Linked DNA regions of Homo sapiens. The protein of the gene in region 5 interacts with the protein of the main gene of each other region in a biochemical or structural test. Each region holds a gene or a part of one and is shown on either strand. Other genes may lie near its edges. The genes, in order: C4orf36, KIRREL3, DAPP1, DCTD, TRPV4, CDPF1 and DEGS2.

Region 1 (3,359 bases), on a different chromosome or scaffold from region 5:
TTTTTTTTTTTTTTTTTTTTTGCTTTTGTAGAGATGGGGTTTCACTCTTTTGTTCAGACTGGTCTTGAACTCTTGGCCTCAAGAGATCCTCCCACCTCAGCCTCCAAAAGTGCTGGGATTACAGGCATAAGCCACCATGACCAGCTTGGAAACTACTGTTTTAAAAAACAAATCTTTATTTGAAATACATTTACAGAAGCCGGGCAGAGTGGCTCATGCCTGTAATCCCAGCACTTTGGGAAGCCAAGGCGGGTGGATCACCTGAAGTCAGGAGTTCAAAACCAGCCTGGCCAACATGGCAAAACCCCGTCTGTACTAAAAATACAAAAATTAGCCAGGCGTGGTGGCTTGCGCCTCTAGTCCCAGCTACTCAGGAGGCTGAGGCATGAGAATCACTTGAACCCAAGAGGCGGAGCTTGCAGTGAGCTGACATTGTGCCCCTGCACTCCAGGCAACAGAGTAAGACTCGGTCTCAAATAAATAAATAAATAAAAATAATATAAAATAAAATACATTTATAACTGGCAATGTTTAAAAAGAGAAACAAACTGAGTTCCACTGAAATTAAGAGATTTTCTCGGTCTCTGGGCGGGCCGTGGGAGGCTTCCTGAGGTGGGGGCCGGGCCAGGATGGCTGCAGCGCAGCGACGGCCGGGGCCGGGAGCGGGTCCTGGGCGGCCCAGGAGAAGCAGTTCCCGCCGGCGCTGCTGAGTTTCTTCATCTACAATCCGCGCTTCAGGCTGCGCAAAGGAGAGGGGGAAAATAAGATTTTATTTTATCATCCAAATGAGGTAGAAAAAATGAAAAGATTAGAAATGTCGGATTGTGTGAAGCTATTGTACAGTTTACAAGGACCTTTAGCCCATCAAAACCTGCAAAATCTTTACATACACAGAAGAACAGACAGTTCTTCAATGAACCAGAAGAAAATTTCTGGATGGTCATGGTATTTACATACACAGTGTATCTTTCTGAAATTGTATGGTGAAGCTATGGGTGATCTTTACTATTCAGAATTTAGGAAAGTTCTCTGGCTGTTGCATCCAAGTAAAATTAAAATAAAATTGGTTGCAATTTTAAAATAAAAAAAAAGAGATTTTCTCATGGATATACAACTAATTGGGACAGGGAAGACTCTAGAACCCAGATCTACTAAAACCTAGAGTTTTCTCTCTATTACTATCTTATCTAAATCTGATTTTTAAGAAATCAAAACTAACAGCAACAATGCCAGATATATTGCGCAGTAGATTTGCGGACTTTAGATTTTAAAATATTTACAGTTTTCAAATAAATTATTGGAAGTATTATCCCTGAGACTAGATGGATTAGTGACAGTAACCCTAAAAAGAAAGAGTTCAGGCCGCTCAGTGGGATGTGGACTACAAAAATAAAAATACAGCATGAATCTTTTCACAGTCCAAAACATATGTTGATACAGCTGGAGATTGTTAATTTTTAAAGAAAATTGAATTGGTTTTGATTTCCAAAGAAATGAAAACACACTAAATTTCTGCTAACAACTATCTTTGGTTGTGTAATCGTAAAATGGTCTTTTTCCACATTTTAACCAGTTAACAATCCAGCTCTAATATTTATGATAATTACTGAGATGGAGGAAATTTAGTCAAAATGTCAGAAAGAACAAATAGGAGAGGACAGGTATGTAAAGGAAGTGGGAAGAAAGAGTAGAGTGGGTAATCTGGTGAAAGCTCCAACTCCCAGACTTTCAGCCAAGAAACTTTGGGAATGTTTCTGGTTGGCAGATCAGAGTCTTACACAGAGCACACTGGAATTTTATGAGGCAAATTTGGACTAGGAATGTTGATGTTCCACCTTCTCAAGTCACACAGCCAAGGCTATATACAGAGCCTGGGTTCCTGACAACTTTTTTCAGGGATGAGGATCACTAAATCAAATGAGTCACTCACATCAAAACTCCTGACACAAAGTGCTCTTCATTTGTGCCATATGTCACAGATAGAAGAAAATATCGGGATAATTCAGATAATGGCTTCTAAATATGTCAAAGCAGCAACCACCAGACACAACTCCTTACTCTGAGGTTAAACTATGGACCTACATGGATTATAACCCCCAGGATGCTTTGATTGTTCCGCACCTTTATAAAATTGGAAATCTACATTTATAAAATCTGCATTTCTATAATTACAGATGTACTGATATGCTATCTAGAATTTACTTCAAAATAACCCAATGGTGGGAACTGGGGTGTGGAAAGTGAGTGAGTATAAGTGAGATAAAATTGGCCGTGAGTTGATAAGTGCTGGAGCAAGGTGATAGAGACATAGAGATTCATTTTCTTATTCTTACTACTCTTGCATGTTTGAAATTTTCCACAATAACGAGTTGCATGTGTTTTTTTTTTTCATCTTTATTATCAGATTCTCTAAAAAAATTGGAAGATCTTCCCCTTGGGAAAATCAAACTGGAAGATTATCCCCTCAATGCCACTCTAGCATGGCACCGACAGACTGGAGCTGAGTGGCTGCTGCCCCTTTGGAGGAGGCGCATGCTCTCCCCTTCTCCAGTCTCTGCACTCCCTGTATGGCTTCACTGGACCATTTTGCTCATTTATGCTACTGACTCGATATTGGAATGCATAGGTTTGTAACCTCAAAGTTATCCATAACCCCCAAATCCCAGAGTGATAGCAATGTATCAAAAATTTTATATTTGCAGAGTGATATCAGTAAGGTGGCAGAATAGGAAGCCTCAGATCCTCACTCACCAAGGAAGACACTGACTTAACAATATACAAACCAAACTGCTTTAGTAAGAACTCCAGAAACAAGTTAAGAGGTTGCAGCACCTCAGCAAGTGCATTGAAATGGGTAGGAAAATTCATGGCATTTTACCTGCCCTAGCCATTCCTTCTCCCGTGCACAAGGTGGCACAACCAGGAGAAAAATTCTAACCCCATTTTTCCTCAGGAGTGAAAGAGATGAATGCACTGTTTATCCAACATTCTGGTTTTTCGGGGATGCTGCTCAAGGACTGGGTTCTATCTTACCTGACTTGGAACAGTGACCAGAACAGCAGTTTGGATGCCAAGTTGGGGGGCCACTGGGAACAAAGGCAAGCTCCACAGTTTGTTACAGCACTGGAGAGAGTGTAGTACCACAGACAGACACCAGGAAAAGCAAAAGATTATGAGCTCCAGTGAAGAAGCAAGTAAACCTTTTTTAACTGGGAAGTTATACACACAAGCCCAGAGAAGATGCATTCCCAGAAAGGTTTGGGAGGTCGCCATACACTCTAGCCAGGCTGACTGGTGAAGACCCTCCCCTGCATGAAGCCAATGTCTAAAGACTGGGAGAGGTAGCTGTTTTTTATTTG
Region 2 (4,272 bases), on a different chromosome or scaffold from region 5:
CAGACACCTACTAATTTGTAGATCTTTGGTGTCAACTACCAGATGTCAGCTCCTACTAGCACACTTCTATATGCCCCTGCTTCTTTCTTTCTTGTTCACAAATACCAAGGGATAATTTTTTAAAGTTAACATCCGCATGGAAACTTGGAGTTGGAATGTGCCTTGTAGTGAGCAGAGTCCTCAAAAGATGTGCTACTACTGAAAGAGGAAAGGCTAAGAGTTTCCCAAAAGACCTCCCCAAGGTCCAGGGACTGAAGACAGTAATGACTGATTTTAGAATTGAATGCTAAATGGCACATGTCAGGGGAGCGTCTTTCATTTTCCTCTCCTCTCTCTTTACCTCTCCTTCTCACAGTGCATAACGTTGAATATTTTTCTGTGTTGTTTTGTTATGTCCTTAGAGTTTGCATCTTGTGTGTGTACTCTGCTTGCACACTAGATTATGAGCTTCTGAAGGCATGGTCTGTGCCTATTATTTTGCTTCCCTCCATGGCCTGCTTATACCAAGCATGCCTAAATGTCTATTAAGTAAATAGACCCAGATAAATTCATGTTGATATCCTGGAGGAAACCGAGTTTGATTTGAGTGTGGAGTGTGAATTTCATGACAGGTAAAAGGCTTGAAGATCCTTAGGACGCAGTTGTCTATGACCTTGGCCTCTCCTTTGCAATTGGACTCACAGCACCTCTTGGAGAAAAGACAGGCTCAGAGTGATGGAGCGCTCATTAGAGGAGAGGCTCTGAATGCAAAGACAGGCTGCTCCCCTGTCCTCGTTAGGAAATGCACAAACCAGGATAATGATAATAAATGGGTGTGTGTCACAAGCCTACTTGCCTTCCCTTTAGTTCCTGCATTTTGTCTTCCAGGAGCAGTGCAAAGCAAACTAAGATCCAAATGTTCAGGTTTTATTACCTACCCCCCCCCCCCACCACAACCACCCACCCACCCACAGGAAACTCTCAGAAATGCAAAGCATGCTTATCTCTTCTCCAACTCCGAGCCTCCCGCTGCACACATTGGCCAAGTCCTTCCGAGGGAAAGATGCGCACCCCCCCTTCCTAGTTCCCTTTCAGCCCAGTTTCCAGTTCCTTTGCAAAGGCAGGGCGTGCATGTTTTTGTGCACATGCATGTGGATAGTCATCCTTAACTTCACTGTTAAACAGGACATCGTGTGGACAAAAAGTCACAGCTCCACTCCAAGCTCAAGATGCCTTTTGGTCAATAATGGTGACAAAAGCTGAATTTTTCCCTATTTAGGGAAAAGAAAGAACACAGCCTTTTCCCCCACTGTCCGTTTTGCATAGATCTCCTTTTTCCGAGTGTTTCCTCTTTAATTATGACCTGTCTCCCCTCCCTCTCCCCTCGCCTCAGCTTCAGTGAAAGGAGTCCTTCTGTCACTCGTCACTAGCTCGCTCGCTCACTGTGGGAGGAGCCCGCCTGAGGAAGCCGTGTGCCTGGGATGCCAAGAGCCAGAGAATGGATCTTCTCCGAGTGGGGACATTGCTGACAATCCCGGCTTCCCGAGGCGGCTAAGAACAGGCAGTTTGTGTCGGCTGGCTGCAGATACCCAGAGGCACAAAGAGACCGAAGCCACCCGGAGGGACCCACGGACGGACAGATGGTAGGCGCGAACCCGAGAGGACCGGCGGAGGCTGAGCACCGAGAGCCGCCAAGGAAGAGAAACTAACCACAGCCAAGTTACCCCGCCGGCTTTCCTTCGCTGCGCTAAGGAATGAAACCCTTCCAGCTCGATCTGCTCTTCGTCTGCTTCTTCCTCTTCAGTCAAGGTAGGACCCCTGCGCTGCTGGAGTTGGAAGAAAGTCGGCTGGGTTGTCAGGGCGCGGGAGGCTGTGGGCAGGAACGTGGGCAGGCTTCGGGAACTCGGACTGATGGATGCGTCTCTCGGTGCCGGGCTGAGATGCTCTGGCATTGCCTCTTCGCCTTTGCGAATGCAACAAAATGGTACTGTTTATTTTCCTTTGGAAAGAAGGGGTATGGGAGGGGAGGGGAATGACTTTCTCCTCTCACTTGTCAATATCCAGCTCAAACTCTCCAATGCAAATGAGTTCTTTATGCTTCTGGTATGTTAATTAGGTAGTATCTCTGTGGTTATGCCGCTCTGAACTTCTGGGCACCTCCTCTCCTTCAGACCCAGGCCAGGGAAGGAGACGGCAGGGAGGGAGAGCTTGGTTTAGGTGGATATTTCAGCTTGAATAGGGTTTGACTTGCACAAGTGTATTCAAAAGCGAATGTGTGTGGTTTGCACCGTTGAAAAGGGGGTTGCAATTACAGAATGTATTGTGGGGGGTAATTTGCAGTGGTTGGGAAAAGCTTGTAAAGAGTTTCATTGAACGTCATCGAGTTCCCTAAATTAGGTTGAATTCTGAATCCTACACAGCACTGAATTCAGGGTATAAAATGAAATTTCGCCCGTGGTGCTGATGGTTTCCTTTCTGCAGCCTAGCAGGGGCAGAGAAGCAGGTGGACTCTCCGGAAAGAACTTTGCCACCTCTAGGCTCCTTGCCACTGGGAGCCCTGGGGCTGGTAGTGGTGCAGAAAGGAGAGGGAAATTCGGGAGAGGGAATGTGAGTGCCTAGTTGGCCAAAGGCATCAAAAGTCACCTGTGGAATTGAGTTTGGAGGGGCAAGTACATGGGCTCCTTCCCGCTCTTTTGGAATGCCAATGCACCTCTGCCATCTGAGGCTGCATTTGTGCCAGCCAACACAGCTCTTAGAGGTGCAAGACTCAGAAAAAATCCACAACAGAGCACGTCCATCTGTTGATTAAATGAAGGGTAAAAGTTTTCGAGAAAGCAAAGCACTGCCATGGGTGGCTGGCTTTGCAAGCAAACAGCATGTCTTCTGTTTCTCCCCTGTCGGGGAGAAGCCAAATATAAGCAAAAACCTGGCTTCCTTCTTCTGCTCTTCCACCCGTGCTTGTGGTCACTGCAGACTTTCTCCTTATCTGTGCAGTTCAAACTTTGCTTCTGGTCCTCCTGATGAAACCGAAGGGGCTCCTTCTTCATATTTGTATGTGCATACTAATGCCTGTGTATAATGATAATGTATGTACACACACACACACACACACACTCATGTATTCATATGGTTGTGTGCTTCTCACCAAGGCTCCCTACAGCAGCAGGAAGATAAATTGCCTTCCCCAGAGTTTCAGGCTGAATGAATAAGAACTCTCTCAGAACACTGGTATAGAGACAGGTTCAGTTATATTACCATTTGGTAAGATTACCCTCTTTCTTGGATGTGTATGTGCTTGCTTATGAGCACACACACACACACACACACACACACACACACACACACACTCCCATTCGTCTTTGCTTCTTACCAGTTCACTCAGGAAGTTTTGATATAGAACCCCTGAGAAGGAGGGAATCTTCCAACCAACCCCCCGTAAACACACAAACTCACATTTGCATGGGACCAGTGCATGCTTTAATCAGCCTTTTGTGTAGTTAGAAGCTTGATCCGTGATACTTATGTAGATTGGCATAAGAAGGCTATAGGTGTCTAAGTACCTCCCTGGCCGTCTGAATCATTACAGTGTACATCTTCTGTTGTGCTTATTTCTTTCTTGGTCTGGAGCTGTTTCTTGACTGCTTCATGTGAATCTTTAAATATTTACCTATGGAGGTTAAATGCTCTGTTTTATCTACCCCGAGTCCTGAGAGCGCTAGGAAGAAACCATAACATCATGCAGTTCTTAATGCCTTGTGCTCCTGGAGTGTTCTGAGCTTGGCCATCACTGTCCACCCTACCAAATGGTAGATACCTGGTCCAGAGGCTGGAAAACAGGTCTAAACAAAAATGAGGAGACCCAAGTGGACATGGCTGGTCAGATACCCTGCATCCCTGTACATGGTGTGCTTCTTGAATAGACAGTGTCCGACTATGGGAATCAAGGGGTCCAGCCATCAAGTGGGAAGGTGTTTTATGGACTTCACTGCAATGTGATATGGTTATCTTTTGCCTTGATCTGTGGAAATTTGTTTATGTGGATGTTGTTTTGAGCATTATGAATTCCCCAGAGGATTCTATTTGACCATCCTCACATATATGCTTAGCTCATGTACTGTGCCCCACCTCTACCCAGTGTCATGCATTCATCAACTTATTGGATAGAACGCATCCATGTCTAACAGGTCCTGGGAGGTCTAGCCCACATGGCTCTAAATGGCTCCACTGTGATCCCCCAGAATGAGGCCTGAGGTTACACCCCCCCACCCGGCACCCTCACACAGCCACCTGCTT
Region 3 (3,500 bases), on a different chromosome or scaffold from region 5:
CTAAGATGATCCCAAATCCCAGCCCCTGGAGTACACACACTTTATCCCAATTATTCAATCAAAAACTAGTCTACATGCTACTGGGAAGGGATTTAGCAGGTCATAAAGTCCCAAGTCAGTTGATGTTAAGATATGGACATTATCTGAGTGGGCCTGAACTAATCACATGAGCCCTGTAAAACAGAGTTTTCTCTGGCTGCTCACAGAAGAAAAAGTCAGGGAGATGTGTTCTGGCTGGCATGCAAGAAAGCAAACACCCATGTGGTAAACAGCCATGGGTGCCATGTGGCAAAGAACTGTGGGTGGCGTCTAGGAGTTGAGAATGGCCCCTGGCTGACAGCTAAAAGGAAAAGGAGGACCTCAGTTCTACGGCAGCAAGGGAATGGATGAAAAAGGATGAAGAGGAAAGGAGAAAATGAAGGAAGAAGACACTAAATACCAGATCAGAGCCACAAGCTTCTCCAACACCTTTATTTCAGCCTGGTAGGATCCTGGACAGAGAATCCAGCCAGAAACTGTGAGATAATCCAGTTGCGTTGCTTTAAGTCCCTAAGTTTTTGATAATTTGTTATGTAGCATAGAAAATGAATATAGAAGCAAGGCCCAGAGCCCAAAGAGACAATGTGAATGCTGCTACTGAGTTAGTGACCAGTAGTGACCGTGTAGACTGGGAAAGAAGTGAGAGAGCCTCTGAGGCCAGATTAGCTTGAGGAACTGCACTATGAAGGGAAGAGTGACTCTCCAGGGTATATGGAGGTGCCATCAGAACAGTAACACAATAACAGTTTGAGCTTAATGGGTGGGTGGCTGAGGGAAATTTCATGGAGTCCTTACATCCCCTGCCTAATCCATGGAGAAGCGCCTAAAAACCCAAGAATACTTGCTACATGTCAGTGGAAGCCAGAGTGTCAGATGCGACTGAGAACCAGCCGCCTCCCCTGACTACCAGAAGCTTGGTCAGCCTCTCTGATCTGGGGCACCAGACAGAAAGAAGGGGGTGTGAGGTGGGGAGGACCTGAAAGATCTGGACAATGACTGCATTTGGCTGTATGAACCTGGTGGGGACTGGATTAACTTTCTTACCATTTGGGAGAAATAGAGACTCAATATGAAAAGCTAGCCCACTATAGGAAAAATTTTAAACATGTATATTGCCTCCTTGAGGTTGTGACTATGAAAGCCGTACAGTCATAAATCATTCTGCATTTACAGAGAAATCAAAGAATAGTGAAAAGGACACTGAGCCAGGTGTCAGGAATTTGGATTCTGGCACTGTTTCTATTGTTGATTTTTGAGGTACCAGACATTCCACCGCTTTGGGTTTCAGATTCTTCAACAGTCCCATGAAAGGTTTCCATCAAATAATTCCTCATGTCTCCTCCAGCTCTAACAATTTTTTTCCTGCTAATGAATGGAGCAGGAATGTTGTTTTACACCCTCATCATTTAGAGTTTGGAATCCTTTAACCTGGTGGTCCAACAGGAATTGGGAAGTTTTGCTGTCTGGCAATTTGAGTGATGATAAAGTCAGTAAGTGACAGAGGAGCCCATGCTGAAGTCGTAGAGCCCTGAAGCACCTTACCTCACAGAGAGAGAGTACAGCCCGGTGGTCTCATTGCTGTCCCTCAGAAGGTAGCTGCCGTCACATCCATTTGAGAGGAGAAGAGCTTCAGCAGCATGGCGTGTGAGGTTGCCGTGATACCACCTAGAAAGGAGGGAACAGCGCTTTCACTCAGGCCAAACCATGGCATGACTCCCCCTGCACTGGCTTTTCCTTGCAAAGATTACCTAGCAACATTCTTCAAGATAAGTAGCCCAGAGACCCAGCTCTCAGCCCCAACATTAGGACAAGGAAATCCCTGGGTGGGGCTGAAAGGAGAGCACAGAGTTGACTAATAGTAGCGTGACATGGGTTGAATTGTGTCCTGAAAGTTCTTATGTTGAAGTGCTAACCTCTCAGTACCTCAAAATGTGACCTTGTTTGGAGACAGGGTCTTTACCAAGTTAAAATGAGGTCATGGCTGGGTGTGGTGACTCACACCTGTAATCCCAGCACTTTGGGAGGCCAAGGCAGGCGGATCACTTGAGGTCAGGGGTTCGAGACCGGCCCGGCCAACATGGTGACACCCCGTCTCCATTAAAAACACAAAAATTAGCCTGGCATGGTGGCAGGCACCTATAATCCCAGCTACTCGGGAGGCTGAGGCAGGAGAATCACTTGAACCTGGGGGACGGAGGTTGCAGTGAGCCAAGATCATGCCATTGCACTCCAGCCTGGGTAACAGAGTGCAATTCCATCTCAAAAAAAAAAAAAATGAGGTCATTAGGGTGGGCCCTAATTCAATATGACTGGTGTCCTCTTGTAAAAAGGGAAAATCAGGAGATAGATTTGCCTACAGGGAGAACAGCGCATGAACATGACAGTCACTTCCAAGCCACAGGAAGAGGCCTGGAACAGATTCTCCCTCACGGCCCTCGGAAGGAACCAATCCTGTTGACACCTTGATTTCCGACTTTGAGCCTTCAGAACTGTGAGGCAATCGATTTCTTATAGTCAGCTGCCCAGGCTGTGGTTCTTTGTTATAGCAGCCCTAGCAAACTAATACAGTGTTGCTTTGTAATCAGAATTGGTTTTTAAAGTCCAAGTCAAAATACCATAAGAATAGGCTTTGACCAATTTCCTTCTTTTTTTGGTCTCTCACACTCTTTTTCAAGTGTGGTACCTTTTCACGGCGAAACCTCTGTGCTATAATACTAAAGGCTATTGTCATGAGTGAAACGAAGCTGGATGGAAGGAATTATAGTATGAAGTAAATGCCACCAAGTACTGTTTCAGCCTGACAAGTATCTGAAGAGCTAGGGAATGCTCAAGGAGATTCAAAATGATATTTGTGTTTTAGAAAAGGTAATATATATCTATGGTAAAAAAAAAAAAATTCAAATTGTCCAAAAGGAGACATAGCAAAACATGTTTTCTTCACCCTGGGCCCTCAGGCTCCCTGTTCCTTTCCTAGAGGACACCTTGGTAACCATTTTCCTGTGCTTCCTCTTAAGAGATAGTCTACACACTTAGAGGCATTGGATGTGTACCTCCACTCCTGATTCTACAAACATACGAGCATTATTTATTATTTTTATTTTCTAGGCATATTGCTCTGCACCATCTTTCTTTTCTCCAATAACAGGTCATTCACATTCTTTTAAACGATGTCATAGAGGCATGAAATGTGATGATTAGGATTGTGGCCCCGGGGGTTGCTTTGCCTGGGTCCCAATCCAGGTGGTACCTCTTACTAGCTGTATGGCCTTGGACATGTTACTTAACCAATCTGAGCTTTGGTTCCTCATGTTTAAAATAGTATGACTAATAGGCATACGGCATAGGCCAGTTGTGAGTCCTGCACACATTAACATGGATGAGATGTGCTCCATAAAGCCTGGCAACTAAAGCAGTGCTTAGTATGCGTTAATTGCTACCAGGAAGCCATTGAGATCCAAAAA
Region 4 (3,500 bases), on a different chromosome or scaffold from region 5:
CTCGGCTTCCCAACGTGCTGGGATTACAGGCGTGCACTCCATACTCAGCTAGGATCTTTTTCTTTATTGCTGTTATCCAACCTTTTCTCATCCAATGTCTTTTAATCTGCATGTCTGTGGAGTAACCTACAGTCTGACTGTCCCCTCCTATTCATGCATCCTATCTCCATATGGTCTATATTCATCTTAGAACTGCGCCAGTCTTTAATCGTTAGAGGAGGGAGGGAAAGGCGCCTGTTTCTATTAATTTATCCATATGTACACATGCACATTCTCCCTGTGGCATTGCCTCCAACAGCTTTTTACAGCTCTGATTTGACCGAGAACGCTTTCAGAACTCCGTAAGCTGAGAAAAAGATACTAATCTAATGCCATCAAAGCTATAATACTTATATTTTTCCTTGGAATAAGAGAACTGGAAGAATCTTCAGTGATAATTTACTTCATAGAGATATTGAGAAATAAATGTCAGGTGATGCCTCTAACAGCCCCACAGTCACTGGGCATGAACATACCAAACCTGGAACCCTTGGCTCCTTACGGCGGCTCCAGGATTCTTTCGTGTGAATATGGCAATTGTTGTTTTAAGCACTATGGGGCTTTACTTAGCTAATGTGTGTATTACAGACATGCATATCCCTATCCAGATTAAAAAAAAAAAAGTCTTCAGGAAGTAAAAGTAAAAAGCAATACAAACATTTGCAAAAATCTCTAAGAACTAGGTTTTATTGTGTATTTCTGGGAGCAAACAATATATTCATATTCTACTTTAATATAGCTGGTATTAACAAAACTCCTGAAGGGAGATTCCGGATTAAAAAAAACTCAAAATACAATAAAGCTTTAGTCATTTCAGCCAATTTCAGAGAAGATCAGTCAAAATCAGCACAACTGACATAGAACAGATCACCAGAATCAAGACTATGAGAGTAATCATTCTCAGGTAACCACACTGTACAGCAATCCCTGTGTTTCTAAGCAAAGACTTAGCAAAGTTAAAGAAATAAAGAAGTGGCCGGGCACAGTGACTCAAGCCTGTAATCCCAGGACTTTGGGAGGCTGAGGCGGGTGGATCACCTGAGGTCAGGAGTTTGAGACCAGCCTGGCCAACATGGTGAAACCCCATCTCTACTAAAAATACAAAAATTAACCAGGCGTGGTGGCACGTGCCTGTAATCACACAGCTACTCCGAGGCTGAAGCAGGAGAATCGCTTGAAACCTGGAGGTGGAGGCTGCAGTGAGCCAAGATTGTGCCACTGCACTCCAGCCTGGGTGACAGAGCAAGACTCTGTCTCAAAAAAAAAAAAAAAAAAAAAAAGAAGAAGAAGAAGAAGAAGAAATAAAGAAGGAATATCCATTTGCATTCAGATCATTAATGTGCTCAAATACTTAACATAGCTGTTTTCTAAATTAGTTTGCATGTGCCCCTGACATTTTATCAAGGCTACTAATTTTTCAACAAACCTTTTATCTTGAGAGATTACAGTACAAAGATAAACTTCAGCCCACTTCTGGGAACCCTGGAACCACTACTTTAGATTAAGTTTTATTTCAAACTTCTACGAGGTGAACTGACTCAAAAGTCACTTTTTATAGAAAGGAGACAGATATGTGTATTTTCATGGGTAGGTCCAATCCCCAAACATTTCAGCTTTTCCTAACATGTGTGCTCTTCAAAACAAGGAGTTATTTTGTTACTATATGTCTTTCATAGATATTCATAATGAAATAGTAAACTCTAGCACTTTAAAAATAATTAACTCTGTAACTATAAAAATACATAAATATCAAAATAAATTATATTAAAATATCATTATTTATTCCTTTCTGAAAACTGTTTATAAACAATTATATCTTAAAGTAAAACATGCTTACATGGAGCTGGTTGATTTTAGTGGGTGGGAGAAGACTCATATATACACTGGTGTGTCCCTCTGTTTATCTGAAACCCCACACGATCACAGCTGAGTTTGCCCCTTGATTCGTAAAAATAATCTACTTAATTTCTTTTCTATGCAGTTGTTCAAAGGTTTTCCATTGATTATAACAGTAGTTTTGTACAAAAGTCCCTAATTAGACCTGCTGTCGGGCCACAACTAGTAGAAGGCCAGGCAGGGGAGGAGCGGCAGGAAGCTTTAAGTGAAATTAAATTCTGCAGGAAAAGAAACAGCAAGTTATCAAATTCATGGACTGACTAACGAAACCAGAGGACATTCAATTTCAGGACGGAAAGAACAAATTTGATCTTAATTACTAAGAAGCTCTTACAAGTTGTGAGGAAGTCATATCTTAAGAAGGATCAGCCTCCTAACTTCTTGATAAATTAGTTTCTCAACACTAACCTTTCAGATGCCAAAGAAATATATCACGTGCATGGCAGTCAGGAAAATGTCAGTGTTCAAGGGGGTAAAGTAAATGGCTAAGTAATCACAAAAGTGACATCTATGCATGCTTAACAATATGCTAAGTCTGAAAAATAAAGATGAAATTTAAATAGAGAATTTAAAGAGGCACTGCCCCACACTGGCAAAGGTGTTTAAGATGCTCTGCTGAACTCTTTCGCCTTAATTAATTCCAGGTTTTTCAGCATTTTCCTTCCCAGCATTACATCCTTTTTAGAGTATCCCTGTAGACATAGGAACTGACTCGGGTAAGAGCCCCACTTCTACCCAACGCACTCAGAGTGAGGCCTCCCCCGACTCTTGGGGACACTGAGATGCTACGGTTCCCTCCCTGGTGCAGTGAGATGCAGCAGGCCAAGCAACCCTGGCTCCCTGGTCCATTGGGTGGGATAGGAGGCCAAGCACAGAGGCACTCACCAAAACCCAGAGCCCTTTGCCAGCAGAAATCAGCAAGGCCACAAGTGCTGGGCAGCTGGATACATGTGGCAAGCATTACTAAAAATTCCCTTAAGTTTAACAACGGGAACAAGTTAATTCTCCAACTCTCTAATTTGTAAACTATATCATCAAAATCGGTTACGAAAACCCAAGGAAAGAGTGATATCTGAATCACCAAGAGTATTTTACCTCATTTGATAACATTGGTATTTTGATTAAATGTGCTTCACTATAATGAATTCCACAAAGAAAAAGGAATGAAAAATGTCAACTGAATACTTCATCACAGGTTTAGCAACCCACCCCCTCATGAAAATAAAAATCTTCCCAAGTTTTTTAATCTTGTAAATTAGATAAATCTGCTGCTTCCTCTTTTTTAATTGTCATTCATCTGAAAAGATTCTTAGTATAATAACATTGCCTTCTTCCTGCCACTTAATGTTACTGACATCATATTATCTTTTGGATTTTTCAGGAAAAGGATGGAATAAAAAGCTTCTTTAGCAGAGGGAATTTTCATTTTCCACATTAATACTACATTATAATAAAATAGTTTTATGAAGTTTTGATCCCAAGACTGGAAGAACAAAAACACCCTTTAAAAATAACTCTCTAGAGACACAGCCCAGGAAAAGCTCCATCTTCCTATTATGTTACAA
Region 5 (3,500 bases):
TTGCCTCCCAACAAGCCTGTAAGCTAAGTGCCTTTATTATCCCCTATTATAGAAAAGGAAACTGAGGCTTAGGAGGGTTAAATAACTAGCACAAGTTCAAAAGCCAGTGAATGGTGGCCGGGCGCAGTGGCTCACATCTGTAATCCCAGCACTTCAGGAGGCTGAGGCGGGTAGATCACTTGAGGTCAGGAGTTTGAGACCAGCCTGGCCAACATGGCAAAACCCCGTCTCTACCAAAAAATACAAAAATTAGACAGGCATGGTGGCGCGCAACTATAGACCCAGCTACTCGGGAGGCTGAGGCACAAGAATCGCTTGAACCCAGGGGGTGGAGGTTGCAGTAAGCCAAGATGGCACCACTGCACTCCAGCCTGGGCAACACAGCGAGACTCTGTCTCAAAAAAAAAAAAAAAAAAAAAGCTGGTGAATGGCAAAACTGGAGTATTAGCTATTGCTACAAAGGAAGCCACCTAAAGTGGGGCTTAAAATAGCACCCACTTATTATTATTATTTTTTTTGTGGCAAGGTCTCACTCTGTCACCAAGGCTGGAGGGCAGTGGTGCTCTTGGCTCACTGCAATCTCTGCCTCCTGGGTTCAAGCGATTCTCTTGCCTCAGCCTCTCGAATAGCTGGGATTACAGGCGTGTGCCACCACGCATGGCTAAGTTTTATATTTTTGGTAGAGATGGGGTTTCACTATGTTGGCCAGGCTGGTCTCGAACTCCTGACCCCAAGTGATCCACCCACCTTGGCCTCCCAAAGTGCTGGGATTACAGGCGTGAGCCACTGTACCAGGCCAACTTACTATTGCTTATGAGTCAATGGGTCAGCTGGGTGGCTGTGCTGCCCTGGGCCAGGTTTGGCTGATCCCTACAGGCTCTTGTGCCTGTGGTCAGCTGGCAGGCTGGCTGCTGGCTGACTGGTCTAGCTAGTATGGACTTGGTTAGAGGGGGTTTGCTATCTATCTTCCACATGGTCACTCATTTCTGGACAGCTAGCTTGGGCTTGTCCACATGGTGGCCTTAGGGTTCCAAGAACATGAGCAGAAGTGTTCAAGGACACCTCCTGGCATGGCATCACTGCTGCCTTACTCTGTTGGCCAAAGCAAGTCACAAGGCCAGCCTCGATTCAAGGGATGGGGAAATAGACGCCACTTCTTTTTTTCCATTTTTTTTTTTTGGTGGAGGCAGGGTCTTGCTATGTTGCCCAGGCTGGTCTTGAACTCCTGGGCTCAAGCAGTCCTCCTGCCTCAGCCTCCCAAAGTGCAGGATTATAGGCGCGAGCCACTGCACCTGGCCTAGACTCCACTTCTTAGTGGGAGAAGCTGTAAAGCCACATTGAAGGAGGATGGATACATGGAAGGATAAAATTTAATAATTAAACTAGCAGCCCAGGTATTTTCTTAAAGCCCAACATCAGCTCCCTTGATATACCTTCTTCGTGATGTCATGATGCCACTAAGAAGCATTCTGGGACCTCAGTGGCATGGGTCATGGGAGAAGGACCAGGGACCAGGGCTGGAGAAACTGACCAAGTCCTTGGGCTGATCCCCGAGGTGTGGGTAATCTGACATCAATGCCCAGCATCCAAAGGGGAATGGCCAACTCAGGTTAGACCTGGACACATACACATCTGAGCAGGTTCATCTGGGGACGAGCCTGGCACAGGAATCTGACAAGGGTGATATTTTAACCCACGATAGTGGCCAAGTCTCTAGGTAGATTATTGGTGGGAAGTGGAATTGTAGTTTTCACTGGGGAGATAGGGACAGGGTACAGCTTTCCCTTCCCAGGGATCACACTGGACAAACTAGACAGTGTCAAGGGTTCAACAACAGTTTGGGATTCAGGTCAGGGATCTAGCCCTACTGCAGTCCTAGTTATTGAAACTAAGGAGAAACAAGGGTTAGAGTAGCAGCTTAGCAGTCAGCTTGGTTGCAGGTCTTCTCCTTATAGGATGCACTAGATCTCAATTCTGAGGCTGACATGACATAAACAGGACACACATGCTTCTGTTCCCACACTTTGGTGTCCATAGCAGACATCACTAATGGATCACAGAACAGTTTTTCCGGTGAGTCCAGACAAGGTCTCAGAATCCTTCTCAACACAGTGTTTCACCAGGTACTATACAACTGAAGAACATTAGCATATGAGTTGAAATCTGCATACTCTAATCCCTGGTTGCAGGCAGTATGACATTCTGTGCCCCACTGACTGATGGGACTGAGTCTTCTTCATGCTCCCCTCCCTGGCTGGTTTAGGGACAGGTTGTTGCTGCCAAACTGTGTTGAGAAGGAATCTGAAGCTCCACCTGGGCTTAGTAGGAAAGGAGAACCATGATGAGTTTGAGATGTCTAGAGCAGGAGAGGCCCCTTAGAGAACACGGCTTTGGGGACAGTCAGGACTGATGCCTGGTTTCAGCCCCCACTTTTCCTCTCTGGGTTGGGGTGGAGTGGGAAACTGTCAGAGAGAGAGTCTACCCCTGCGAATAGGGGCATTCCAGAGCCCCCAAGACCTCTAAGAATGGTAGGCCGCATTAGGATTTCCCAACACTATTGACATTTGAGACCAGATCATTCTTCGTGGCGGGGACCATCCTGTGCATTGTAGGGTGTCAGGCAGCACCCCTGGCCTCCACCCACCTGATGCCAGTAGCACCCCCACCCCCAGTTGTAACAACCAAATATGTCTCTAGACATTGTCAAATGTCCCCTGGTGGGAAAAACTGAGACCCTCCCTGGACTAGATCCTGAAAACCTTTTCCCTCCCGGTAGCAGGGAACCACCAGGTTGTGTAAGGAGGGGTGAACTGTCCCAGGTTGGAAACAGAGCAGGTCAAAACTCCTACGCTTATCAGTAGTGGGATTGAGCCTGTGAGTAGCCACTGCACTCCAGCCTGGGCAACATAGCAAGACCCCATCTCAGAAAGAAAGAGAGAGAGAGAGAGATAACCTCTTCCTTATCAGCAAGAGTTTATGGAAAGGCTTCAAAGGTTTTGGGATCAGGAGGACCTGGGTCTGGTGTGGCTTGGCTGATGTGTAGGGTGACATGGGTCAGCGTGTGGGCCAGCGTGCTCCGCTCACTAGGCCTCAGCTTTCTCCTCCAGCAAATGAGAATGACACCCTCCACCTCTCTGTGGGTGTGCTCACACTCAGTGAGTGCCACCCCTATCCTCCCACAGCCCTGGTCTCCCTCCTGAACCCGTGTGCCAACATGAAGGTGTGCAATGAGGACCAGACCAACTGCACAGTGCCCACTTACCCCTCGTGCCGTGACAGCGAGACCTTCAGCACCTTCCTCCTGGACCTGTTTAAGCTGACCATCGGCATGGGCGACCTGGAGATGCTGAGCAGCACCAAGTACCCCGTGGTCTTCATCATCCTGCTGGTGACCTACATCATCCTCACCTTTGTGCTGCTCCTCAACATGCTCATTGCCCTCATGGGCGAGACAGTGGGCCAGGTCTCCAAGGAGAGCAAGCACATCTGGAAGCTGCAGG
Region 6 (3,781 bases), on a different chromosome or scaffold from region 5:
AACTGATTGGTTCCAGGCAATTAGAAAATGGCTATAAAATAACCTTAATTTTAAAAAAAAATCTTGGGTCTTCGTTTTCCTATTAGGAGACTGAACTGACCACATGTATTGATTTATATCCTGAATATATGGGAACTTCTGTGTTTGGGATGTCCTACTGTAAGACTGATGAATGTACAGAGTTAATTTCAGGGTACAGTTTTGCCTTAATGGTTTTAAAAAATAAACTATTTTTTAAAATTTTTTGGTGAGTTTTGAGTGATGCTGCGAGATGGACTGTTTGGTCTAAAAGAACCAAGTCCCCAGCTGTGGGGTCCGCCCTCCGCCAGAACAGTCCCTGCGCCCCTCATGGAGGCTGTCTCCACCTGCACAGTCCCTTTTGTGTCCTTCAACATACAGAATGGATCAAGGACAATCTGGCTCCGGAATACGACATCCTTTCGTCTGAAGTCACATACAACGGGAACTTTTAAAGCAGTGAGCATCTTAAAGTCCATCAGTGCACAAGTCAGTAAAAACTCTTTATTCATTCCTTCATGTGACAGTTGGCCTTGAGTAGTTACAAAGACAGAGCAGTTCCTGCCTCTCAGAATTCTAAGCAGACATTCCAGAGCTCACAGATCAGTGTCCCACCAGCTGCTACCCTGGAAGCTTCAGGGAGATGGGGAGCCTGGAGTAGGGGGGTGCTGCAGGAACCCCCGGCAGGCAGTGGGGCCAGGCTTCACAGGCACCCAGGGCTGAGTGCGAGATGGCAGGGGGCAAGCAGGCAAGCAGTGGGATGGTCTTGAGGTGTGGGGTGAGGGCAGGAAGCCCACGGTATTCCTGACTTGGAGTCGAGGGAGACAGAACGGAGGGGCCCGAGCTGAAGACAGAGTCTGAGGGAACTGGAGAGGCTAGAAGCCAGCACTCAGCTTCCCAGGAGACCCCAACTATTGCCGGGCCAAGTGTCCAGGGAGAACGTCGGGTATCCAAATGTTTCAGTGGAAGATTCCTTTTCCAAACATGAGCTGGTTCTTTGGGTTTTTAATTATAAACATAATACATGGTCAAGGTTAAAAACATTTTCCAAGCACCACATAAGGATATGAAATAAAAATTCTATCCCCCTCTAGACCTTCCAGACTGGGTCCAGAAGGAGCTGCTGTCAGTGATTTTCCTTACAGAGAGACCATTGCAGCCACCTACAGTGCACCATGGCCCCGACACAGTGTGGCATCTCCCCCCACACGCACCTGCACGCAGCCTCTTAGGAGCTGCCCTGCTGAAGGAGGTCATCCCTCTCAGTCACATCTGAGCAGCACTCACTCAGGCCTGGGCCCTGAGGGGCATGTGGGGGGACCTGGCCGGGTTCCTGGCTGTGTCTTGTCTGGCATCTGCCTTTGGACTACCCTCTTGCTACAGCTCCCTGGGCCTGTGGCTGCTCCAAGCTGGACTCCAGCTCCCCTGGGCTGCAGTGCTGCTCCCAGTGGTCCAGAAACAAGGCCAGGCATGGCGGCTCCCAGCTCAGCAGCATCCCTGGCGCAGGCTGGCCCAGGAGCTCTGTGCAGGGTGCCGCCCGATGACCTAGCCCCAGTTGCACTCACGTCCGAGAACCGGGCTGGCTGGGGGTCCTCTTTGATGGAGCTTTCCTTTTCTCCAAGTCTTGCCGAATTTCCTGAGGAAAAGCATTGATGTTCTCCCGGACACAAGGGAGGCAGAATCTCTTGGAGTAGAATAAACTGCATTCCTTAAAGAAGTGGACAAGGATGGAGGCTTGAGTATCCTGGGAACATGGTGCAGCTCCTCCCAGGGGCCAGCCCTTCCCACACTTGGGGGGCTGGGCTGGGGCCCCAGCATGCACAGTGTGGGCAGGTGGCCAGAGCTAGACCAGCAAGAGGGAGAGCCAGGCCTGAGGGCCTGGCAGGGTGTCCAGGAGAAAAGCAATGCAGGCCTGGGCTACCCTGGGTGGGAACAGCTGGGATGGGACAGAAAGACTCTGGGGCCTGCTCTGCTCCATCACGGGGCAGTGACAACAATGGAAAGCTGGAGCACAGGCCATGCCCCGAAAATCCCAGAGTCCTCCCGTCCCAGCTATCGCAGCACGAACAGTGGCCACCTGGTGCTGGGAGCGGCAGGGGACAGGAAGGACAGCCCCACAGACCAAAGACGCCATGGACGAGCCAGCTAGTCTGGGCAGGAGGCCAGAACCGTGCAGCCATGTCCGCTCTCCTCTCTCTTACACACTAGAACTCCCGAGATTCATCACGGTGCACAGCACGTGGCTAAGGATGACATTCCCCAGCCCCCTCTGTAACTGGGCATCGCCATGTGACTCAGGCTGGTTAGGGGCGTCAGCAACTGTGTGTGCCACCTCCTGGTCATGCCCTTTGAAGGCATGGACTGTGCTCTCACGTCCCTTCCCGCTGCCTGGGATGCAAATATGATGGTGGGAGCTCCACAGCCACAAGGGACCCAAATAGAGACTCTGCTGAAGACAACAGGGGTGCCCTTCCAGCCAAGGCCACCAGTTCTGGACTCTTACATAGGAGAAAGTAAGTAAATAACTATTTGCTTTACTTAGGCCACTCTTATTTTTGGTGTCTGTCTGTTCTTAAAGCTTAGTGTGCTCGCAAACATAAGGCTGCCCTCCTGCAGTTCTTAGAAAAGACCCTTCGCCATGGAGATCCGCTCACTAACAACCTACTGTTTAAACAAAGAAAGCTGCAGACTTGTGGTACCTGCGTGCGCCCCCCACCCCCGCCACCCCGCTGCTCACGAAGAGCAGCCCAAGGCCAAGGTGTTGCATTCAAGACCTCCACCTCCCCACCTGGCCCACCCACCTTTGCAGTCTTCCTTTCCCAGCTTCTCCTGGACCACCAGCTCCTCCATGAGCCTCAGATACTCCCATGCCACACTGCGGAGGCTCCTCCCACCCTGGCCCATCTCGTCCCCCTGGCTATTGATACAGCTCCCCTTTGTGTGTGTCAACCTGTGGCAGATGCTCAGGGACTTCTCAGACTCTGGGGTCACTCTGAGTACACTGGGCACGCTGTGAAAGCCATGCTGCTCCACTTCCATCCGTCCTTGGGTTTACAGCTACCCAGGTGAACCTGGCCCACCCAGCCTCTCTGAAGCTCAGTTCCCTCATCTATAAAATGGGTGGAATATAATACTGCTTTACCTGACTAAGGGGCAGGACTGAATGAAGCCTCAGCAGTAAAACAGGTCCCAAGCACAGGACCTGGCACACAACAAGTGCTCATGAAAGGACAGTCCCTTCTCCTGGAGATCCCTCCAAGAACATCTAGAAAGTAAGTCACCATCCTGGTGAGAGGGCGCACAAGGACTGTCTGCACTGTTGGTGGGAAGGGGAGGAACCCTGAGGGGCCACTGGGGTGGGTGCAGAGCCACCAATTACCTATTTCCATTCCTACACCAGGCTGAGACCCTCTAACTGACCCTAGCTTGCCCTCTCACCTCTCCCCTTCATCAGCTGAGGGGCCCCATCTATAATGGGGTGAACCCGCTGCTCCCTCTCTCCCAGCCCTCCCTACCCAGGGAGAGCTCCAGGATAACCACAGCAAGGACAGGTGGCCCCAGCCCACGCTGCTTACCCACCGGGCCCACACACACCAGCCTGCTGCACAAACTGCAGCACGAGCCGAGGACCAGGAATCTGTCCTTGTCGGAGGTGAAGGGATCCTTCATGACATAGCTTTCCTCCAGGAGGCTGCAGGAGAGTGAATGCAGCGTCAGAACAGCCCAAATCTCTGCCGTCGGAAAATCAGCCATGACCTATGGC
Region 7 (3,500 bases), on a different chromosome or scaffold from region 5:
GGGCACAGTTCAAGAGCTTGGCTGTGGAGCTGAACCCCTGGCAAGGACCCTGACACCCACTTATTAGCCACGGGTGAGTCTGTAAACAGATGAAGGAGTTGGGGCCTGGGCAAATGAAAAGGGGTTAATAAATCATACCTTCCTAATGGGGCTGCTGTGCAGATTAAACGAGGTGATATGTAAAGTGCTTATTCCAGGACTCGATGAGTATCAGCTGCGATGATAATGATTAATGTCTCAGAGACCTGGCAAGGGCTGTCGTTTCCCTAAGGACAGGGAATACTCTCTGCTTCCTCCATGCCTATGCTATTCCCAGGCCTTGGAGAAATGCTCTGTGTAACTGCCAGCATCTCTTTATAGAAGAGGCAGGAGTGAGGCTGAGAGAGGGGAAGCAACTTGCCGGGGAACACACAGGCCAGGCTGGTGCTCAGGCAGCCTCCTGCCCCACCCAGCTGGCTCCTGCAGCCTATGCCAAGCTCCTGGGTGCCCAGGGATGTTCAATAAAGATCATAATCTGACAGTCAGAATCCAGGAAGTCCTTGCAAAGAGCTGGCTCCAGGAGCTCTGTGGGTTGGGGCCAAAGTCCATCTCCAGCTCCTGCCGGGGAGGGGGACATGCTCCCTAGAACATAACTTCCTAAGAAAGTGGGGTCTCCTAGGCCAGGGCTGAGGCTCCCTGACCTGAAAGGGCAGGACCGGAGCCAGCGAGACTGGCCCCATCAGAGACCCAGCCAGGCGTGGCCGGTGGAGTAAGAGGCAAGCTCTGGGTTTGTTTTTTTTTTGAAAATGAATAGCTTTGTAATTTTGTTTGTTTTTAAATTATGAAAGCAGGGCACACATGGTAATACAAAAATTCAAATAAAGAAAAACAAAAGAGGAAATCCCGGAAGCGAAACTGCTGGCTGTTGCTGGATTATTTGCTTCAGAAAGGCCGGGGCTGAGGCTCTGTCAGTGGTAACTGGTAAAATCCAGGACCAAACTGCCAGAGCCACAAGGGGATCCTGGGGCTCCATCTCCCAGCCACAGAGCTGCCCGGCTGCAGGGTAAACCCATCTCTGTAACGTACGGGGGCCTGGCTGCTCCCAGATCTTCAGTATATATTTGTCACTGGAAATGAAAGGCAGGTTTAGTGAGCGGCTGGTGAGAAGCTGGACACTTGCCACACTTTCCAGATCCAACTAGGTCCCAGGGTGCCTCCCACACTGGACAGGGTCAGGCTTGTCTCTTGGCACAAAACCTCAGGTGGCAGGGATGGAAGCTGTGGGTAGGTGGCTTCCCAGAGCATTAGGCCAGGGCTGGGAGGAAGAAGTTTAGGAAGGAGGGGATTAGGAGGGCTTTGCTGCCTTTGTGAGGAGAAGCTTGTCCCAGGTCAGGTTACTCAGCTGTGGATGGGTGGGGAAGAGGCCACGTTGTATGGAAGCATTTCCTGCTGTGGCCACCAGGTGGCATCGTCAACCCTGAGCAGGTTTGTGGTGGAACAGGGAGCTGGGAAGCAGGTGGCGGCAGAGGTGGAATGTTGGAGGGATGATGGGCAGTGACGGGCACCTCCCATGTGGCCAGTGAGTGACTGTCATATGATGGCATTTGGCCTCCCTGGGAAGGTGATACAGCAGGTCTCCCTAGATGTTGCCAGAGCCAGGGCTTGGGGGCTCACTGGGGCCCAGTGTGGAAGAGATAAGAGGCCCCTTTGCTTTTGGGAGCCCTGCTGGGGACAAGACAAAAGTGACTTTATTGCCAGCTAGTCAGGAGGGGCAGGGGTGGAGTGGCCTGTGACTGGGAGTAGGGGTGTGGCGTGGGGGGGCCCTGTCTCTGCTACTCTTGGAGGCAAGGGTACAGCAGCCTCTCTGGCCTGGCTGCCTGTTTCTGATGCGGTCCCTCTGCTCAATGGCTCAGCAGATTTGTCAGGAGCATTTCTGGGCAAAGGCTGTAACCCATCAGAGTCGCACCAGGGTGATGCAACTGTCCTGTGGGTGCAGGGGGCTTTGGGCTGGCCTCCCTTCAGCAGGCCCTGCCTCTGGCTCTGCCCTCTGGCATTTTATGAGTGAGCCTGCTAACTGGTATAAGTGTGCAGACGTTTCACACCTTGGCATCTGCTGCCCCTTCTTCTCCATAGGCCCCTAGGGAAGACCCCACCTCCATGGGCTCCCAGCCACAGAGGCTGTCAGAGCAGATGCCTTACAGATGGAGACTGAGGAGACAGGTCCAGAGAGGGACAGGGGCTTGCCCAAGGGCACACAGGAGTCTGACTGAGCCTGATCCATGATTTTTTCTTTCTTTTTTTTTTTTTTTTTGAGACGCTTTGTTGCCAGGCTGGAGTCCAGTGGTGTGATTTTGGCTCACTGCAACCTCTGCCTCCCAGGTTCAAGCAATTCTCCTGCCTCAGCCTCCTAAGTAGCTGGAACTACAGGCGCACGCCACCTTGTCCAGCTGATTTTTGTATTTTTAGTAGAGACGGGGTTTCACCATGTTGGCCAGGCTGGTTTTGAACTCCTGACCTCAAGTGATCTGCCCGTCTCAGCCTCCCAAAGTGCTGGGATTACAGGTGTGAGCCACTGCGCCCAGATCTGATCCAGAATTTTCTCTGGGTGCTCTGTGGCAGTGTAGCCAAGCACTAGATCGGTGCTGATGGAGTCTGAGTCCACATCGGGGCCTTGCTCACCATTGTGCAGGCCTGGAGTCGGGGGTCCTGAGTTCAAGTCTTGGCTCGGTCAGCCTTGTTGCACCTTGGTGGGCCCTTCTTTGCACCTCCCTTGACCTCAGACCCTTCCTGAGTCCTGCCTGGACAGGGTGACTTCTAGCAACAGCTGTTGTTCATGGCCACCTGCCCAGATGCCTTGTGCCTCACCTGGGGCCGCTGCTGGAAACCGTCTGTGTGGGTCTGTGTATCTTGGTTCCAGGTGGCTGTGCACGTCGGGCTCTGTGCTGCCCCACGGAGCAGAGAGCCCTCAAGGCACATGTGTCTCCCAGCTACTCCTGCCATCCAGGCTGGAGGTGTGGAAGGGCAGAGTCACACCTGAGGTCAGCTGAGTGCCCACAGCAGGACAGAGTTCCCAGGCTGGGCCAGGTTTGGGTGTCTAGCCAGAGCCCATGCAGGCCTGCAATTCCTCATGGGGCTGCCAGGGAGCTGTGTCTCTCCCTGTCCTTCTCTGCCTTGGGCTTTCCCCCTCTCTTGTGGCCCAGAGAAGATGGGGCCCAAGGCCATGGAACCCATTGACTCCCACTCCCCAGCCCCACCCATTCTCCCTGTCCCCCTTTCTTTGAGGCCCTGGAAGAGGCCCTGTATTAGTGTTCTCCAGAGAGACAGAACTGATAGGATCTATGTATCTATCTCTCACATCTATTATCTATCTATCTATCTATCTATCTATCTATCTATCTATCTATCTATCTATCTGTTTTTGCCATTACTGTCGCCCAGGCTGGAGTGCAGTGGTGCAATTGCGGCTCACTGCAGCCCCGAACTCCTGGGCTCAAGCGATCTTCCCACCTCAGCCTCCCAAG

The links.
Region 1: the proteins of TRPV4 (region 5) and C4orf36 interact in a test that uses a peptide from one of them, tested with the Homo sapiens proteins (one large-scale study listed by BioGRID).
Region 2: the proteins of TRPV4 (region 5) and KIRREL3 interact in a test that uses a peptide from one of them, tested with the Homo sapiens proteins (one large-scale study listed by BioGRID).
Region 3: the proteins of TRPV4 (region 5) and DAPP1 interact in a test that uses a peptide from one of them, tested with the Homo sapiens proteins (one large-scale study listed by BioGRID).
Region 4: the proteins of TRPV4 (region 5) and DCTD interact in a test that uses a peptide from one of them, tested with the Homo sapiens proteins (one large-scale study listed by BioGRID).
Region 6: the proteins of TRPV4 (region 5) and CDPF1 interact in a test that uses a peptide from one of them, tested with the Homo sapiens proteins (one large-scale study listed by BioGRID).
Region 7: the proteins of TRPV4 (region 5) and DEGS2 interact in a test that uses a peptide from one of them, tested with the Homo sapiens proteins (one large-scale study listed by BioGRID).

What each region holds. Positions count from the first base shown.
Region 1 is NC_000004.12:86,875,705-86,879,063, forward strand, and holds the end of C4orf36 (uncharacterized protein C4orf36), read right to left. Parts: intron 740-3,359; 3' UTR 501-739; downstream 1-500.
Region 2 is NC_000011.10:126,997,971-127,002,242, reverse strand, and holds the start of KIRREL3 (kin of IRRE-like protein 3 isoform 1 precursor), read left to right. Parts: upstream 1-1,472; 5' UTR 1,473-1,733; coding exon 1,734-1,788; exon of another isoform or gene 1,789-1,950; coding exon of another isoform or gene 1,951-1,963; intron 1,964-4,272. UniProt on the Homo sapiens protein: Synaptic adhesion molecule required for the formation of target-specific synapses. Required for formation of target-specific synapses at hippocampal mossy fiber synapses.
Region 3 is NC_000004.12:99,833,827-99,837,326, reverse strand, and holds part of DAPP1 (dual adapter for phosphotyrosine and 3-phosphotyrosine and 3-phosphoinositide), read right to left. Parts: intron 1,705-3,500; coding exon 1,582-1,704; intron 1-1,581. UniProt on the Homo sapiens protein: May act as a B-cell-associated adapter that regulates B-cell antigen receptor (BCR)-signaling downstream of PI3K.
Region 4 is NC_000004.12:182,907,387-182,910,886, forward strand, and holds part of DCTD (deoxycytidylate deaminase), read right to left. Parts: intron 1-3,500. UniProt on the Homo sapiens protein: Catalyzes the deamination of dCMP to dUMP, providing the nucleoside monophosphate substrate for the thymidylate synthase/TYMS.
Region 5 is NC_000012.12:109,788,399-109,791,898, reverse strand, and holds part of TRPV4 (transient receptor potential cation channel subfamily V member 4), read left to right. Parts: intron 1-3,156; coding exon of another isoform or gene 3,157-3,182; coding exon 3,183-3,499; intron 3,500-3,500. UniProt on the Homo sapiens protein: Non-selective calcium permeant cation channel involved in osmotic sensitivity and mechanosensitivity. Activation by exposure to hypotonicity within the physiological range exhibits an outward rectification.
Region 6 is NC_000022.11:46,243,513-46,247,293, forward strand, and holds the end of CDPF1 (cysteine-rich DPF motif domain-containing protein 1), read right to left. Parts: intron 3,710-3,781; coding exon 3,598-3,709; coding exon of another isoform or gene 3,594-3,597; intron 3,284-3,593; coding exon of another isoform or gene 3,165-3,283; exon of another isoform or gene 3,161-3,164; intron 1,727-3,160; coding exon 1,580-1,726; coding exon of another isoform or gene 1,302-1,579; 3' UTR 501-1,301; downstream 1-500.
Region 7 is NC_000014.9:100,153,146-100,156,645, reverse strand, and holds part of DEGS2 (sphingolipid delta(4)-desaturase/C4-monooxygenase DES2), read left to right. Parts: intron 1-3,500. UniProt on the Homo sapiens protein: Bifunctional enzyme which acts both as a sphingolipid delta(4)-desaturase and a sphingolipid C4-monooxygenase.